3 separate regions of the Homo sapiens genome follow, and regions 1 and 2 are each linked to region 3. Evidence: fine-mapped expression QTL. A gene starts in region 3. Each other region holds a variant in brackets. All regions are shown on one strand. Distances are between the middles of the regions.

Region 1 (4,000 bases), 120 kb before region 3:
AACCATCTTACTAATCAAGTTGACCACACCACAGACTCATGACGGAGCCTAACTGAGAACACAACTGCCCAGCTAAACTCATCCTAAATTGCCAACTTGCAGAATTGTGAGCTAAATAAATGACTGATGTTTTAAATTACTAAGTTTGGAGTGGTTCATGATACATCAAAAGTTATGAAATACATCCACAGCGGTGACAACGTGAAGAAAAGAAAAACCCTGATCCTTTATCACCATAACAAAACAGAAAAAGTTCCCATCTCCATACTTGTAGCTTCGGGTTTTTCTTTTTTTTTTTTTTTTGTTTTTTTGTTTTTTTGTTTTGTTTTGTTTTGTTTGTTTTTTTAATTATGCTTTAAGTTTTAGGGTACATGTGTTTATTGCGGCATTATTCACAATAGCAAAGACTTGGAACCAACCCAAATGTCCAACAATGATAGACTGGATTAAGAAAATGTGGCACATATACACCATGGAATACTATGCAGCCATAAAAAATGATGAGTTCATGTCCTTTGTAGGGACATGGATGAAATTGGAAAGCTTCGGGTTTTTCTAACAATGGCATAAGAACAGCATGACGGGCAGCAAATCAAGCCCTCAGTTTAGTGGAGATGCAGTGCTGCTCTCCTCTAGCTCTCCTTTATAGTCTTCCGGAAAGAGAGAAACTCCAACTGCCACCATGCCAGGAATTGCTTTCAAGGAAATGACGGTGACACAGGGGAATCTAGAAACTAACTCATCTAGCTTCCCTTTAGGCATCTTCCAACTGAAGTCTAGATCTGAAGTTTGGTTCCTCTTCCCTTTAAAGTTACCAATTAGAGGTAATCACATGTTGCGCCCGTGCTGGAGAAATGCACACTACCCAAGATCTTTATGTACCTTTTTCCATGATAAATGTGCAAGGCAGTTAATGTAATCTAGAAAATTAAGGATGATTTGTTTTCAACTATGATTTGGGTTTTAATTGAAAGATGACCACAGTTTTTCCTTAATCGTGATTTTAACTTTCCTGTGATAAGAACACCCATTGTTAACATTATTAGTTAACATTACTCTGGAATTTCTAGCCAATCCAGACATAACATGTAGGAAGGGAAAGTAAATTTTCATTACTCATAGATATGATTATTAGATATCAAAAAGCTCCATAAAATCAATTCTTACAATTATTGAGAATAAAGGGCTCGGATTTCATATAAATATTTTAAAAAATCATTATCTTTCAAGTATGTCAGCAAATATGAGTCAGAAAATAGAAAAAAATGTCATTCACAATAACAATTAAAAAAAACTATGAATACCCATAACATGAGATGTAAGGTAAACAATCTACATTACTCTACAGAGAGGGGTAAACAGTCAGAAATATTAAAAAATATATATAACGCTAAACAATAATGTGATTCCAATGCAAGTGTAGAAAGACGAATAAAACAGAATAGAAACTAGACAATCAGTCCAGTATCCCAGGATTTAGTATATTATAAAAGGGCTATCACAGATCAGTGGGAAAGGGAATAGTAGTCCTACTGGTGCTGTAAACAATGGATTAGCATTTGGAAACAAAATCAATTTTGTTCCTAACCCAACACTGTAAACAAAAACACACTTTACATGGTTCAGAATTAAATGTAAAAATAGAAGAAGAAAAAAAAGAGATAAAATGTAGGAGAATCTGTACGATAAGGCTATTAATAAGCCTAAA[G/A]GCAGTGAGTGAAAATAAAGAGAAGGTGGAGGAAATTTTTTTTTTTTTGAGACAGGGTCTTTGTCACACAGGCTGGTGTGCAGTGGCATTATCTCAGCTCACTGCAGACTCCTCAATCTCCCAAGTTCAAGTGATCCTCCTGCCTCAACACCTCCCTCAAGTAGCTGGGATTACAGGTGTATGCCACCATGCCTGGCTAATTTTTGTATTTTTGGCAGAGATAGGGTTTTGCCATGTTGACCTGGCTGGTCTCAAACTCCTGAGCTCAAGCAATCCTCCACCCACCTTGGCCTCCTAAAGTGTTAGGATTACCAGGGTGAACTACCACGCCTGGCTGCAAAGGTATTTTTACAAAAGTTTTTGGAAAGATCTGTATTTCAAAATGTATAGAAATCAAATTAAAAGGCACATAAATGGAATTTATGACAGAAAAGGGGATAAATTCAATACATGAGGGTCTCCCGCAAATCAGTAAGACACAAGGGTATATCAATAAATGGAACAGGGAAATATTTTCACAAAAGAATAATTACAAATGGCTAACACTTGAAAAAAATCATTTTTCTTCATCATAAACACAATATATTAAGTATTTCTTTCTCTTCTTACAATTAAACCAGTAAATGTTAATAAGGACAGTTAACTTTTCTGGAAAATAACCCATTAACATGTTTAGAGGTCTTTAAAATATTCATTTACTCTAATTCCTAGGATTTGTAACACTTCTAGGATCTATATTAAGGAATTCAGAAACGCTCACAAAGGTTTTCTTCTCAGTGGCTACATAATAAAAAACAGGAAGGAATCTATAGTCACATAATACAGGAAACATTGTACATCCACATATTAATCAATAAAAATATTTTCAAATAATTTTAATGATTTGGAGATGCTTATACTAAAATAGTAAAATGGAAACAAGATGCAAATTGAATCTGAAATATGATGTTTCCTATAACAATATTCAAAGAAGGGAAACATACTAAAGTCTTAGTGTTTTTCTGGGGGAAGCAGGAATACAGTTGGCTTTAAATCTCTTCTCTATACTTACCTAAGCTTTTGAAAATGTTTTCTACAATGAGTATGTCTTACTTTAGTTATTTTGGGGAGAAATTGGATTATGCAGCAAAAATCTGTATTGAAAGACTCCACCTAGAAGAATCTTCATATATTCCTTTCCAAATAGGAGAAACACTGCAGCAACACTGTTTATTACTGATGTCCAACTTTAAGAAAAAGTAACCCGGATAGCATTACAGCAACATAATGTAATAAAGTGCTTTTTCAGTATGTGTTTAATGATATCGCTGACATATGACAACAATGCTATTTTTAAAACAACTATATGTAACCTTTTAGACATTTTACAATGATTTTACTTACAATCAAGTGACAAAATTGGTATAATTATTGCATTTGGCAGTATAACTGCATTTGAGGTAAGTTCATATTAAAGCATATCTTGTAATTTCATTTGTGTCCATTAGAGCTTCTTAAAAAAATGACTGACTTTATGTATTAAGGTACTCTAGTGACTGCCATTAAATGCACTCCTCTTTTTTTAAACTTTCACAATAAGTTACAATACAAAGGTGAAAAGCGTACATAAAACACGGCAATATGTTATAAGCAAACACTTAAAAGCTTAAGGGCTACCCTCTTATTGAAATGCCTTAATATTTCAAATTTAAAAGAGAGGTAGCTAAGCAACACTGTACTTCCAATTGCGAATAGTACTCAGTTTCCCCCTCCATGTTGCTAGGAGAACATTACCACATAACTTTAAAAATAGTTAACAGAGCACAGATCTAAGTATTAAAATTATGTAAAAAGAAAAAACTTAGGATTTTGAAAACTGTACACATTTATTGGGAAGCAAATGGAAAATTTCCAAGGTTTCAATGAGATTCTTAAATGTATAATGAGCATATGAGTTCAGTTAAATTGTATTTTAAGGACAGAAAGTATAAAACAATCTACTAAGGTTATAGTTATAATTATTTCAGAAAATAGCTGTGTTCAACTATTTAATTAGTGGTGGTTTATTAGTATTTCCAGTCTATCTATATCCTTTATATAAAATGCAATTTGTATTTCTCTAATTATATTAATAGTGTAAGTCAAACTGTGGTAGGCAGAATGTAAGACAGCTTCTAAGATTCCCTCAACCTGGGATAAATGCCCTATATAATACCTATCCCTTGAGTCTGGACAAGACCTGTGAATATGATGCACTATCACTCCTATGATTAGGCTGAATTATATGGCATATGAGGGATTCTGAGGATATAA
Region 2 (4,000 bases), 96 kb before region 3:
ATTATACTTTGCAAGGGTTGATGATTGGGCAGGGTAAAGGATGCAGGGCAAGATTGTTTTCTCTTTTTAGTGACTCCAAAAAATTACTCTCAATGATATTTTTGCAGCTCTTTTTCCTTGTCACTAAGTACTATACACAATGGGTCAAAATGAAAGTTTTCTGAAATTAAATTTTATAATTAAATAATGCACAAAAGATAATCCTTATTTTATCCCATATTTTATGTAAGTAAGAATTCTAGTGTTAAACAGCAAGTAGCCTTTTAATATTGTGCTTTGAATGGGACTTTCAACTGTAATAGGGGTAGTCTAAATAGGGATAGACAGCCCAGAATGCCTTTCAGCTATAGCACATTGATTCTGAAAAACCTAACAAAAGCAATTACTTCTCAGCGATTAAAAATCTTGTTTCTTTCAAAAGAATAAAATGAAATGCAAACCTGGTGTATTATCTGAGCTACAGGAAGTTGTTCAGCATATTTCAGAGGTTCCATTAGTTTCTCATCCATCTGGTCTTCCTTATAGCTGGAAAAGATAATTTAAAAACACAGAGCTAAGGCAAATACTATTTTGAAATATAGCAAATATTTAAATATGTCAAATATGAAATATAGTAAAATGCATAGATTTTTTTTGAAATAATCAGTATTTATCAATAATCTTTGAAACACTACCATTGAAAAATTTTAAATGACTATAGAAGTATTCAGACTACATTAAGTAACTATGCAATAAAATGAGCTAGCATCACTTAATGTTCTCAGATCCTGTCTTTCTCTGAGACAAAAATGTTTCAGAATTCTCTGTCCAAAAGAGGGTGTTTCTTTCATAGCACTTAAAGGTCTTCAAAACCTGGCTCCAACCAAACTCAAGCCTCATCTCCAGCAACCCTTTCTCTATTTAACAGTCTACTGTTTTAGTTATATTTAACTACTGGCCAAACCCCATTGGGACTTGCACCTCCAGGAGTCTCTCAGTTTCCCCGTGCTGTTATATCTGTTTGGACCAACCAACAATTCTCTTCTTTATTTATTCTTCTTTTTAATATATTAATTTGTTTATCGCCATCTAGGTATATTATTTTCACTTCCTTGAAGATGAAACCCATGTCTTCTTCTTTGTATATCTAATATTTATCAAAAAGACTCAAATGTTTATTGACTGAATAATAAATATATGAATAAAATGAAATAAAAATAATTCTGAGAGGTTATTTTATATAGACAATATTTCTAATATCTACATGTACAATGAGATACAAAGCTGATATAATCCATATCTAGGACAATATGAAACAGTAAATTTAAAAACTTTTCAAATGAAGAAAATGTAGTATAATGATTTTTAAAATTACTGACCCTTTCAGAAATAGCAAGTAAACATTTGATTTCAAGACAATAAAACCTAAAAACATTTAAACTTCCTTTTGCCTTTTCTGTGAATTACACATCAGCTTATCAACTTAAAAATTACTAAACTTTAATTATCTTGAAAAATAAATGAAACAAGATTGGCTAAGTCTCTAGGGCTTCAGTTAAGGAATCTAATGAGAACTCTAGAATCTCTCCCATGAAAAAGGCAGATATACAAAAAAAGACAAAATTTTCATATGATTTAAGAGCTTCAAGAACCTCTTATCTAGGTAAAAGTTTGTGGATATCTTGCAGAATTTGCATAAAAATAACTAGCTTAATTTGAGAGAACTCTGAAGATTCTCACTAATGATGGAAAAAAAAAACTGCCTCAAAACATGTTTCACAGAGACAGAAAGCAGAATGGTGGCTGCCAGGAGCTGGGAGGAGGGGACACTGGGGAGTAATTGTTTAACAGATAGAGGTTCCGTTCGCAAGATGAAAAAAGTTCTGGAGATGGATGGGGGGATGATAGTTACACAATAATATAAATGTATTTAATGCCACTAAAGTGTATACTGAAAAATGATTAAAATGATACGTTTTATGTTATGTATTTGTTATGGGCTGAATTGTGCCCTTCAACAAACTCCAAAATTCACATTTTGAAGCCTAACCACCAGTACCTTAGAACGTGACTGTATTTGTAGACAGGGTCTTTAAAGTAGTAATTAGCTTACATGAGGTCATTAGGGTTGATCCTACTCAAATATGACTGGTATCTTTATAAGAGGAGGAGCGCAGGACACCGAGACAGTAAAGATCACATGAAGACACTAGAGGAAAATGGCC[A/G]TCTACACGTCAAGGAGAGAGACCTTAGGAGAAATCAATCCTGCTGACATCATCTAGCCTCCAGACTGTGAGGAAATACATTTATGTTGTTTAAGCCATCCAGTCTCTGGTATTTTGTTATGGCAACCCTAGCAAACTAATATCTATTAGCATTAGATATTTTTACCTCAATTAAAAAATAAACTAAAGTAAATACTCATTGACCAAAAAAAAACACAACTTGCTTTAAAGCATTTCACAGTGTATCTTTTAAAAGTTTATTTACATTATGTATAAAAAACACATACAGGCCAGGCACAGTGGCTCACGCCTGTAATCCCAGCACTTTGGGAGGCCGAGGCGGGTGCATCTCTTGAAGTCAGGAATTCGAGACCAGCCTGGCCAACACAGTGAAACCTCGTCTCTACTAAAAATACAAAAATTAGCCAGGCATGGTGGTGCGCACCTGTAGTCCCAGCTGCTTGGGAGGCTGAGGCAGGAGAACTGCTTGAACCCGGGAGATGGAGGTTGCAGTGAGCCAAGACTGCGCCACTGCACTCCAGCCTGGGAGACAGAGCAAGAGTCTCAAAACAAACAAACAACAAAAAAAAAAACACACACACGCAGCAACAAAAGAAAAAGCAGACAAACTGTATAGACATCATCAAATTTCAAGACTCCTTTGTTTCAAAGGACACAATCAGAATGAAAAAACAGTCTACAGAATGGGAGAAACTTTTTGCAAATCATATAACCAAAAAGGGACTTGTATTAAGAATGCATAAATACAACTCAAGAATAAAAAAGCGAACAACTCAATATTTTTCCTTCCTTATCAAGGACATTCTTAAGTGCAAATGATGTATTTTTGTTTGTTTCTTTTCTACTGTGGTCAATGGTGGGAAGAATACAGTGACCACTTGTGCAGTTTGATTCCAGTGCCTTGATTCCTGTTAAGGCACCAGCAGTTTTAATAAATATCTTCTGAAAAAATAAAAATTAAATCACTGACATTAATTCTAAGAGTATAAAAGAAATATGACAAAGTCACTCTTCATTGGCTCTTCCAAAAATCTAAAACAAGATGAAATACATTTTTTTCTCACAAAATGTCTCTTACTCAATATAAAAGATATTCTTTAGGTATACAAAAATATTTGAAATCTGGCAACTTGTTTTGAATAACTTTTTAAAATGCCATGTAGCTGTTATGAAAAATTCCAAACATGTTTCTGTATTTTTTATATTATTTTCACGGAAACATTTAAAAGTGAGCTGCAGATACCATGACAGTTCACATCTAAATATTTCAGCAAAATGTTTATCAACCAAGGATATGTCTGAAATGTTTCTTAATAACAGCAGCACTTTTTCCAAATGCAATTCACAAGTAATCTTGAGTATCACTGTGGATATATGAGTATTTTACTTATCCAGTGTTTCATAATCAATTAAAATGATTACTCATTTTTATAATTTCTTAAAAACACATGTCCATTGCTTTCTTGCTTTATTTTGATATCAAGAAGTGTGATGCTAAATTGGTTCTATGTTAATTATTTTCATTTTTAATTACTTTTAATTTTTAAATTACTAATTTATTGGCTTAGAAGCTCAGGCAGCTTTTATTTTCCCTTTTGTTTTAAGGTCTAATACTATATCTTAAAAGTTGATTGTTATAAATCAAGTTTCCCAGGTATACAGGAAACAGGAGTCCTTTCAATATGGAAATTCAGATCTCATTTTATTTCAAAAAAAGTTTTATTATAACTTTAAATACCATATCTGTTAATTTTCCACTTGTTTCCTAGTTCAAG
Region 3 (4,000 bases):
AAATACAATTCCAGACAGAGGGGAGACAGCTCTAATGTGAGAAAAAGCTTAAAGGTTTTGAGAAACTGAAAGAAAGTTAGCCTAACTAGAAGTTTGAAAGAGAAAGAAAAAATTTGAAGTGTAGTCAGGGCCCAAAAAATATGCAGGGTTTTTGTTTGTGGGTCATGGTGGAGAGTTTAGAGCAACATTAAGGTGATCTTTTGAGCAACATCAAGGTCCCTGGGTGACATGATTGGAACTGCATTTTTAAAAGTTACTCTGGCTTCAATTTGGAGAACAGATTGAAAGGAAAAAACAACGACTCAAGGCAAAACATTTAGGAAACTGTTGCTCCTATCTCTAAGTGAGATATGATGGAATAACAGTACAAACCATACACGGGTTATAGTAAATGAGTGCTGTATCAAGTGTACAAATTACAAGAGTAAAGGCAAAGGTAAGAGATAGGGAAACGTTCTACAGAGGTTATGCCTTTACTGTATCTTAGCACATGAACAGAGGAAACACAATGTATAAAATATTGTAATGTGAAAAAGCACAGCAATTATGTAACTACAAAAAACAGTAATAGTATCCAAGATGAAGCAGTCAAAGTTAGAATAAAGGAGGGAAACAGAACTTCTATTTACTCATATTTATGTTCTCTAAAAATTATGCTATATAAACATCAAATATATAAATTAACAGTAATTCATAAATATATATGAAGTTCATGCTCAATATCTTTTTTTAACTGATAGGGTGTGTATTCAAAAAGTTTGGAGTCCACTGGTCTAAGCTCAAGGTGCCCAGGTGGTGGGGAGAAGAGGTTCCAATATGGAACACTGGAAAAGTAGGCAAGCACCAGGTCATAACGTTTAGACTTTATTCTGTATGCAATTAATAAATATTTAAAAGATTTCATCAGAAGAATAACCTGATCAGGCTTACATTTCGTGTAGACGAATCTAGCACCAAACTCAGGGAGTATGGAGGCCTATGGAAAACAAGATAAAGTAATCGCAAGAGTCTAGACAAGAAGTGATCACAGCCTGAATTAAGTCAGTGGAACTGGAGAGGTGAGGGCAATTTTAAGAACTCAGATCACAAAATTTAGTGATAATTAGAATATGGGATAAAGAGATTAAGACTCTCAGGTTTCTAGCTTAGGAGCAGCACATCTGGTTGAGAAATGGAGGAGAAAAGGGGTGCTTAGTTTTTCAGTGTCTTTTTAAGAGGAGGTAGGATAAGCAGAAGATAAAACTTTGCACACGGATTTTCAAATGTCTCCTGACTATCCCGGATTCTTAGTCAGCTGGATATGCAGGCCTGAAAAAGATACCAGACATCTAGATTGTAGACCGGGACTGAGGAATCATCAGAGTATGGTGAATAGTAAAAGCATTATAGAGCACCAGAACATCCTGTGTCCACGTTTAAAAATGGGAAGCTGGAGGAGCCCAGGATAAAACTAAGCACCCCTTTTCTCTTCCATTTCTTAACCCAGACGTGTTGCCCCTAAGCCAGAAACTTGAGAGTTTTAATAAACACTTATATTTATCCCATGTTCTAATTATCACTAAATTCTATTATCTGGATTCTTAAAATTGCCCTCATCTCTCCAGTTCCGTCTGACTCCTATCAAAACAGAGGGCTGCAGTTGAGTAGTAGGAAAGCAGTTGCTGCACACTGACATTTCACGAGCCTCTTGCTCGTATTTCACCTAAGAACTGCACACATGTAGGAGCAAAGGATCAGGTCCTCCTCTGTCTCCGAGGGTTTGATTATTTCAATTCATCGTTTTAAAACGCTGAAACAGACCAACAGTGTCCTAACCCGTGCCCAGTGATACCCTCCTCAAACCCAGCCTGGGTCAGGGGCTGATTGACTCCAGGAGGCGTCCCTCAGCTACTGTGTATCGGACATCTGCTGGAGGGCTCACAGCCGGCCTCCCGGCTGTGGTCAAATGAGCCTGACTCCTACCTCGATATGACTAGCGGCCACGCTGCCGAAGGACAAGAGCAACACAGTTGCCAAGACAGTCGCAGCCCGGCTGAGGCTGTCGGTGACGGCCATGTTTACCGGCTTCAGACTTCCCGCACCTGAAGGGGCGGAGGCAGTGCCGTAAAGTAGCGCTGCGGGTTTTTGCGACACCATCCGCGCCTCTTCGAGGTGGCCCTCTGGTCCGGCTTTAGAACTCTGCGGTTTTGTGGAGCTCGAGAGTCCGGGACAAGGTAGACGCAGGATATTGACCTTTTTATTTTTAACTGCATTTTCAGTTTGGAGGTTGTAAAATAGGTATAACATTTAAGAAAAAAAATTGAAAGGTGAGTGGAGGGAAAACCCGTAACTCCTTAAACTTTAAAAACTTATTTCTCTGTTCCCTTATTTATTTTATTTATTTATTTATTTATTTATTTATTTATTTTGCCGAGTGCTGCCAATTCTTTGAAAATATGAAGCTGGATGTGGTGGGAAGAACAAGCGTTTTGGCACAAAAAGATGATTAATTGGATAAACTATAAATGGAAAATGTGGGTGGGCGCTGCAATTTAGAGGCTTGGGGTCTACTACCTGGTGAAAGGATTAACATGGGAAGCTAGTTACGTTTTTGTTTCTTGAGTATCTTCTGTAATTATGGAACTAAAGCCTATCTGGAAGAGACACAGCTGGTGTATATGTATGGTCCACCATTCTCTTTATTATGTGAGTTCAGTTTTAATTTATGCATTTCATCTAGTATGACATAAACGTTTCCACGCTGCTTCCTCACAATTTTAACATTTAATGGTGAGATAAAATTCCATCCATTATTGATGCCTCAGCCAAAGTAATTGTCCCTCTGCTGCACAATGCAAAGTTTTTAAGTTTTACTATGAAAATAATATTGTAAAGAGTATCTTTTGTGTGTTTGGCTTTTTAAATCTGTTGAATTATTTTGTTTGTATAATTTTCCTGAACTAGGAATTTGGGGTCAAAATATTCCAAAACATTTTAATAACTATAAATGATGTTGCTTTCCAAAATGAACAAGCTTACAGCACTATCAGAATACACAACACCAAACCATACCATTTTTTTTCCTTTAAATTCTTTGGTATGAAATGTTACCCCTAGGTAACTATACTTATAATTCTTTGGTTACTATCAAGATCTGATGTCTTTCTTGTGTTTCTAAACTATCTCTGTGTCCTCTGATGTAAATTCTTTGTTTATATATTTATGTTTTGCATATGAATTTGAATAATATATTTATAAATAAGTAACATTAGCCTTTGCCATATTTTATGCTATTGCTTTTCCCATTCTCTTGTCTCTCTTTTCCTTTTATTTGTTTCTTTTGCTATTGCACTTTGTGAGAGGTTTCATGCTATTTAGTCAAATTTAGGTTTTCCGTTACGTGAATCCTAGAAAGTAAATACACTGCCAGAATATCTTCCATGTATTCATTAATTCAACAGATATCTATTGGATGCTGATGATTATGAAACAAAGTAGCAAAGATAAGAAGCCATTTGCTCATTCTGCTCCTTTGCCAGCAATATTTCACAAAGCCCCTGACTCATTGACTGTGAGCAGCCTTGTGGAAGAATGCCTTGAAGACCATAAGCAGGATAGGGAATAGGTTTGCACATCTCTTGCCTGAATCACTGAATTTTTACAAAAGGTAAGTTTGGTGATCCTAGCCCTTGCCTCTTCCTGTACATAAGATAATGTCTGACAAGATTAATGATTATGCCTCAAATTCATGACCAGATGTAACTTCATACCCACACTTTGATGAGACTTTACTTGTATTAACCCATTTTCATACTGCTATGAAGAAATACCCAAGACTGCATAATTTCTAAAGAAAAAGGCTTAGTGGACTCACAGTTCCACATGGCTGGGGAAGCCTCACAATCATGGTAGAAGATGAAGAAGGAGCAAAGGCACATCTTACATGGCAGCAGGTGAGAGAGCATGTGCAGAGGAACTACCCTTTATAAAACCATCAGAGGCCAGGTGCAGTGGCTCACAC

What was found.
Region 1: its variant is fine-mapped to the expression of PIGK in whole blood (INTERVAL, PIP above 0.99).
Region 2: its variant is fine-mapped to the expression of PIGK in blood mononuclear cells (TOPMed, PIP above 0.99). The same link has a PIP of 0.9 or more in skeletal muscle.

Annotation. Positions count from the first base shown.
Region 1 is chr1:77,096,595-77,100,594 of GRCh38, forward strand. The region is part of intron 10 of PIGK (phosphatidylinositol glycan anchor biosynthesis class K); the gene reads right to left. Among named protein-coding and RNA genes, the nearest start is that of MIR7156, 38 kb to the left of the region's middle. The variant G/A (reference allele first, on the strand shown) is at 1,709.
Region 2 is chr1:77,121,835-77,125,834 of GRCh38, forward strand. It overlaps PIGK (phosphatidylinositol glycan anchor biosynthesis class K), which reads right to left. Exons shown (of 11, transcript NM_005482.3): 10 at 441-525. Among named protein-coding and RNA genes, the nearest start is that of MIR7156, 64 kb to the left of the region's middle. The variant A/G (reference allele first, on the strand shown) is at 2,205.
Region 3 is chr1:77,217,348-77,221,347 of GRCh38, forward strand. It overlaps PIGK (phosphatidylinositol glycan anchor biosynthesis class K), which reads right to left and starts at 2,083. Exons shown (of 11, transcript NM_005482.3): 1 at 1,963-2,083. The coding sequence starts at 2,055. LOC105378808 (a long non-coding RNA gene) reads left to right here and starts at 2,173. Exons shown (of 3, transcript XR_001738109.2): 1 at 2,173-2,306; 2 at 3,441-3,646. RefSeq lists an enhancer at 1,767-1,876.